2 linked regions of the Homo sapiens genome follow. The protein of the gene in region 2 interacts with the protein of the main gene of each other region in a pairwise test. Each region holds a gene or a part of one and is shown on either strand. Other genes may lie near its edges.

Region 1 (3,606 bases), on a different chromosome or scaffold from region 2:
TTGTATTTTTAGCAGAGACGGGTTTTCACCATGTTGGCCAGGCTGGTCTCAAACTCCTGACCTCAAGGGATCTGCCTGCCTCGGATTCCCAAAGTGTTAGGATTACAAATGTGAGCCACTGAGCCCGGCCCAAAAGCTAAAGTCTTAAAGCAGGAAACAAATGCAACTTTTCCCAGACTCGCCCCTATTAGCTCCATGTAGGATGACTCCAGGCAGGGGTTGGGGGGCACCCCTTAACTCTGGGCTAAGGCTCCCTCAGACCCTCCCATCCAGATGCCATACTGCCCAGGATCAGCCAGAGGCAAACCTACACCTGCAGCAAAACCCATTTGCTCTGAGCAGCTAACAATGTGGGAGAAATAAAACAGGAATAAAACAGGGGACAGGGCACCCCAAAGCTCAGCAACAGGCCTCAGCAGAACCAGGGAAAACCTTGTGCTACTGATGCACCATTCTTCAAAAAACATGAACAGCTCACCAGCCTTCTCCAAGCACCTGCCCAGGAATGGCAAAGAACGAGTGTTGGTTCAACCACCAGGACATTACATGGACCAACAACTTAGATTTCTAAAATGGCTTGCCAAGACTACAGGTGCTAGCTCTAGTCCTGAACAGAAACTAGCCAGCCAGGCCAAGATGGAGCTCTGCCTCCAGCCTCCTCAGCAGAGCACTAACCTCCTGAATGAACCAGCTGTGAGGAACAAGATCCAAGACCAGGCCTCCCCCACACTCCACTAGCAGGAGCAGAATCGCAAGGCAGATCGTATCAGAGTTATGGGCACCCTACCCAAATATCACTCACTTAACTAGTTAAGTGGCTAGTGCCACCTCCAATAGGATGCCAGCCCTATGGGGACAGGTAGGCTCTGCCTTCCTTAACAGTAAATCCCACCCACATGACTTAATAAGAGCTTGGTAAGAATAAATGAAGATCTGGCTGTCCACCTGCCCCACCCTGTGTAAAATCTTTATCCTAGACTTAGAGCACCACTTGGAGCTCAAGACAAGAGCCCTCTGACCTCCAAACTCTCCTCCATCCCCAGGAGTCCACTGTGCATCTTCAATTTAATCCACAGTGCAACAAGGTTACAATAGGAAATCTCTTGTATTTTCATGGCACAACCCTCCTTCATTACCATCAATTTTCATTTTCTTTTTTTTTTTTTTTTTTGAGACAGGGTCTTGCTCTGTCACCCAGGCTGCAGTAGTAGGGCAGTGGCACAATTATAGCTCACTGTAGCCTCGAATTCCTGGGCTCAAACAATCCTCCTACCTCAGCCTCCCGAGTAGTTGGGACTACAGGCCTACACCACCATGCCTGGCTAATTTTTAAATTTATTTTTATTTTTGTAGAGACAAGGTCTCACTATGTTGCCCAGGCTGGTCTCAAAGTCCTAGCCTCAAGTGATCCTCCCATTTCAGCATCCCAAAGTGCTGGGATTACAGGCATGAGTCACCATGCCTGGCCTCATCCTCCTCCTTCTCTCTCCCAAGTTGCCCAGCTACCTCTGGAAAGCATTCCACTGGCTGTGGCTGCCCCTAAACCATTAAGCAAGTGAATGTAGTACTACAGACACTTGTATCAAGACAAAGAATGTCACAGATAGGTGAAATCAGGAGCAAAGAACTAAAGTTAGCATTATCAGTCCCCAGACACCCTAAGTGTGCAGGGTTGGAAATTTCTGATTCACTGCAGAGGTGACTACTGTAAAAGGATGGTCAATGTTTGTCAAGCACTCACTATGCACCTGGCAAGGTCCTAAGCACACTACATTCACTATCTCATTTATCTTCCCAACAGCCTTATGAGCTAGTTGTTACCATTTCATCCTAACAAGGAAAAAAAACAGGTACAAAGAGTTAAAAGGAAGGCTGGGCGCGGTGGCTCACGCCTGTAATCCCAGCACTTTGGGAGGCCGAGGTGGGTGGATCACCTGAGGTTGGGAGTTCAAGGCCAGCCTGACCAACATGGAGAAAATACAAAAATTAGCCGTCTCTACTAAAAATACAAAAATTAGCTGGGCGTGGTGGCACATACCTGTAATCCCAGCTACCTGGAAGGCAGAGGTTGCGATGAGCCGAGATCACACCACTGCACTCCAGCCTGGGCAACAAGAGTGAACCTCCGTCTCAAAAAAAAAAAAAAAAAGAGTTAAAAGGAGATGCTGGGTGGGCGTGGTGGCTCACACCTGTAACCTAGAATTCCTGTGCTGTGGGAGGCCAGGAGTTAAAAGACCAGCCTGGGCAATACAGTGAGACCCTGTCTCTACAAAAATAAAAAATTAGTCGGGCATGGTGGTGTGTGCCTGTAGTCCCAGCTACTTAGGAGGCTGAGGTGGGAGGATCACTTGAGCCCGGTAGGTGGAAGCTGTAATGAACCATGATCATGCCATTGTACTCTGGACTCGGTGACAGAGCTGGCTCTTAAAAAATAAAAAGTTGCTAGGATTGAGGACAGAGGTGAGCCATCCTGGCATCTACACCAAGGCCCACACTTCCTGCACTGCAACACACTGCCTCTACTTAGGGCATCACAGGATGGCTGCTGGATCACAGACCAAGATGCAAGATAACTTGCACGTTCAGTTTTATTTTTCTGTGCTTTAATTATTGGCATTACCACACATTATTAGTTTTCCCACCACAGAGGAACTGAAGATGTACTCCAATTAAATGGCATCTATGGGCTAGAACGTAAATACAATTAAAAAAATTTTTTTTGAAAGAAACTTTTTTTTTTTTTTGAGATGGAGTCTTGCTCTGTCATCCAGGCTAGAGTGCAGTGGCGCAATCTCGGCTCACTGCAACCTCCACCTCCCAGGTTCAAGCGATTCTCCTGCCTCAGCCTCCTGAGTTGCTGGGACTACAGGCGCATACCACCATGCCCGGCTAATTTTTGTATTTTTAGTAGAGACAGGGTTTCACCATGTTGGCCAGGATGGTCTCGATCTCCTGACCTCGTGATCCGCCTGCCTCCCAAAGTGCTGGGATTATAGGCGTGAGCCACCGCACCTGGCCGAAACAAACATTTTATATCCTAGAAAAGGGTGACATGCTAAGAAGTCTGGGCTAAATAAATAAATGAATAAATGAGAGAGCTTCAAAGATACGTTGTCCTGATTTTATAGTAAATCCAGAAAAAGGTAACCCCCAACCATGCATCTACCCAATACCTCTTGTCTCAGGTGAAATTCCCTGCCTCCAGCCCAGACTGCAATGAAGACTAAAAACTGGTCATCATGCTCTAAACTGTCATCTTAACATGCAAAGACATATTAACTGCCCCTTGTCTACCTCCCTCTGGGCCAAATAAATTCAAGTCCTTTCAATTTCTCTGGAAATCATCTCTCAGTTATTCAATCATTTTTATTTTTATTTATTTATTTATTTATTTATTTATTTATTTATTTATTTATTTATTTATTCTGGAGACAGAGTCTTGCTCTGTCGCCCAGACTGGAGTGCACTGGCGCGATCTGCAACCTCTGTCTCCTGGGTTCAAACAATTCTCCTGTCTCAGCCTCCTGAGTAGCTGGAATTACAGGTGTATGCTACCAGACCCGGCTCATTTTTGTATTTTTAGTAGAGACGGGGTTTCAGCATGTT
Region 2 (3,606 bases):
ATGTGAACACACACCACCAGGCACACAGTGTTCGGCTGACCGACGCTTGCCGGACAGTGGGGAGAAACCCCCACTCGGCCCTGACACTGCCAGGCCACACCCAGGGCCAGGACTACACAGGCTACACTTGGGGGGTGAGGGGAGACAGGGAGGGGGAGGGAGAGGGGAGAAAAAGAGAAAGAGAGCGCAGGTGCGCTAGTGCTGGAGAAGGGGAAAAAGAAAGAGCCATTTCGAACAGATGGAAGTTTCTGCCATGAGGCCGTCTTCCCATGGATGGCTGGGTCCTGGGCCCATGGCACTAGCCTACCAACCCCGAGGAGACGGCCCCAGGGCTGCCTCTGCCGGGATCCCCCATTCTACCACCTCTGCCCCTTCCTCCCCTGAAACTGCTCTCCAGTGCCCTACACCAGGGATCTGGGCAGGGGTGGGTGACCAGGCAGATCTTTGGGTCTCGGAGGTCCCAAAGCTGCTGAGTTGGGATCCCGTGCCAGGCTTGGGGGACAGGCTCCCCCCAGGGCTGACTGTGCACAGGTCCTTGCCGAGAAGACAGAGCTGCCTGAGGTGGTGCCTCCTGCGAGTGTGGAGATGTGATAGGAAGGGTAGGGGCGGCGAAGTGAGGCCAGGGTGTCGATAAAACTATCATACTCGACGGGAACTTGAGATCAACAGAGCAGTGCTGTCCCCTTGCATGAAAATCAAAGGGCCAAATTCACATGCAGGGATGGGGCTGACAAAATGAGTCTTGCTAGTGACTGTGCCAATAGCTAAGCTCCTCACTGGCAGGACTTCCAGTGGTCCTGAGGGTGGAATGAGGTCCTGGCTCTGGCTAACCCCAGAGAGGGGTGCCCCCCCCACCAGCCCCGGGGGAGTGGGAAGCTAGGTGAAAGAACCCACCCTGGCAGCTCTTTCTCTGAACGCTCAGCTGGGAGAGGTGAAGGGGCAGCACTAGTGCCTGGTGGTAGGAAGGGGCCAGTGGTGAGTGTGGGCTCTGGATGAGAAGCCCAGTGGGGTAGCGAGAGATGGGAAGAGGAGATAGTGAGGGTCAGGAAGGGGAGAGAGGGGGCGGGGGGATGGGACACAGGGCCACAGGGCAGGGAACTGTGTCCATAAGAATCAGGCGATGGGGAGCGCTCGATTACAAAGTAGTATTTGTTTGGGGGGGGGTTCAAGTGCGGCAAAGCAACCTGATTGGCTTCCATCCATCGTGTAGCGTCCTGCAAGTGACTAAACTCGACGAAGGCGAAGCCCCGGCTCTGACCTGGAGACAGCATTCAGATACAGACGCAGTGGGTTAGTCAACAGCTTTGGACACACGGCGTTCCCGGGGGCGGGACCCGAGGGGAGAGGACGGGGGGCAGAGAGGGAAAGGGGAAGAGGAAAAAGGAAGAAAGAGAAAGAGGCAATCAGAGAGAGAAAGACTAGCGGGCGTGGGGGGCAAGGTAGATGGCCAGGTGGGGCAGGGAAGGTGGAGGGAGAAAAACAGAGGCCAGAGGTCGGTAGGGGGAGAGACACACACACCAACTGGGAAGAGAGAGATGGGGCTCGGGCAGACCTGCCCAGCCAGCCTGGGGTGACAGAGACGGAGAGAAGCAGCTGGGAGGGAAAGAATACGAGAGATCTGCCTCCAAAGAAGGAGGGAGGGGATGGTGGGCAGGCTGCTGGCTCCACACAAGCCACAATACGTAACTCCAGGGCGGGCCCAGCTCAAGGCCAGGGGTGCCCAGGAGGGGTCCTGTAACAGGTGTTGAATCACAGGAGCAAAAGAGAAGCTGGGCCAGGCTGCTCTGCGAGGCTAGGAAGGCTCTTGGCCCATTGGAAACCAGGGGCGGTTAAAGACACGACCTCATCTCAGCCTCACCGCAGCGCAGGGGAGGCGGGCCTCGCTAGGGAGCCACCTCAGGGCCACAGGGTGGAGACTACAGCCACAAACAGTCCAGGTTCCCCTGGACAAAAGGAGAATGGTGGCCAGGATTGGCCAGGAGGACCTTAGAGGTAAGAATCAATGGGTGCCTGGGAGAAGCGCCCAGGGCCATTGAGAAGGCCGCACCTGGAACACCTCCTTGTGGAGAGAGAGACCCAGAAGCTGTCCGTGTGTGGTGTAGTTGGGGTGATGCAGAGCAAGACCTACATGCAACCAAGATTCCAGGCTTGGGAAAGGGATTCAGGGTTGAGGCCTCAGGATAGCATGTCCTTTAGAGGCAGATACATGGGGAGGGCTTGGATGAGAGGGGCTTGGGGGGGCATGCTTAATGTTCAAAAGAATAACCGTTAGGATGCATAGGAGGATGGAATGAATAATATAGTTGGGGGGGGCAGAGAGAGAGAAAGAGAGAGAGGGAGAAAGAGAGAGAGAGAGAGAGAGAGAGAGAGAGAGAGAGAGAGAGAGATGGAGGTGTGGGGAGGAGAGACTGAGAGATGGAGAGAGAAGCCCAGGCAGAGTGAGGCCCCACTGTGCCTGCCTTGGGGAGCCTGGGCAGAGGTCCTGTAGAGACAACTCCCCCCACCACCACCCTGCTAACCTCAGGCCAGCTCCAAGCAGCCTGCAAGAGGGAGGGAGGGAGGGAACAGGCGAGGCCAGGAAGTCCTGGCTGTTCCTTGGGATGTGTCCTTGGATAAGAGCCATCCCCTGCTTCCCCCTTGGGACACACATGTGGGACCACCACGTCAGAGCTACTTTCTGGTCAGAGGCTGTTACCAAAAAATGTGGGGGAAAGTGAGGGGCAGAGGAAGGAGAAGAAAGGAGAGGGAAGGGAGTGTATGGGAGGGGGTTACCATCTCAGATACTCAGAGTCCCAGAGAGGAGGTGCCTGGGAGCCTGGCCCTGGCCCTGACCCCAGGGAGCACCCAGCTCAGCTCAGAGCTGCACCCCTGCCCCGACAGCCCCATTGAAGAGGCTTTTGGCTGGAGCTGTGAGGAGAGTGTGGGGAGTGGGAGAGAAGAGAGGGCACCCCCCACGCTGCCCATTCCCAGCTGTGGCAGGAAGGTGGTGGAGGGAGTGGGGGAGAAGGCAGAGGCAGGAGGGAGATTCGGAGGCTGAGGCTGGCCACTTGAAGGGGAGGGCACTAGAACAAAAGCTCACCTGAAGATTTGTTCCGCATCAGCCGAACCTCCCGTGCTTGCACGCCGTGCGACTGCAGCTGGCCACGGATCTATACGGGGAGATACAGAGTAGGGCAGGCTCAGCACAATGGGGCCGCTGGGTACCTGAGGCTGGCTGGAGGCCTCTGGATCCCGAGGGGTCATCGGTGATGTGCACACAGTCTCCTCCGCCTCTTTCGCAGCTTTTCCCTGAGTGACAACAGCCCCAGGCCCACACCAGTTCACAGTCTTGACTTTCAGCCCCAGACTTGCAGAAAGTGAATCAAATGAAGAAATGGGCACAGAGCAAGGTAAAGCATGGCAGCAGGACGACCCTCAGGGGCACAGAGAACAAGAGAGCAAGTGAGCCAGCCACTTAAGAACGGTGGGCAGGGTGATCTGACAAAGGGCTCGCTGGCAGCCACGAAGTAAGGAAACCTGGGATGCAATTCTTGCCCTTGGCAAGGGGATAACCCGCACCCCCGCCCCTGCCCTGCTGACCTGCAGCTTGCGTCAAAAGAGATCCAT

The links.
Region 1: the proteins of RBM10 (region 2) and BAHD1 interact in binary tests that used the Homo sapiens proteins (3 or more experiments, as listed by UniProt).

The regions. Positions count from the first base shown.
Region 1 is NC_000015.10:40,447,380-40,450,985, reverse strand, and holds part of BAHD1 (bromo adjacent homology domain-containing 1 protein), read right to left. Parts: intron 1-3,606.
Region 2 is NC_000023.11:47,172,671-47,176,276, reverse strand, and holds part of RBM10 (RNA-binding protein 10), read right to left. Parts: intron 3,150-3,606; coding exon 3,080-3,149; intron 1,259-3,079; coding exon 1,185-1,258; intron 1-1,184. UniProt on the Homo sapiens protein: Binds to ssRNA containing the consensus sequence 5'-AGGUAA-3'. May be involved in post-transcriptional processing, most probably in mRNA splicing. Binds to RNA homopolymers, with a preference for poly(G) and poly(U) and little for poly(A).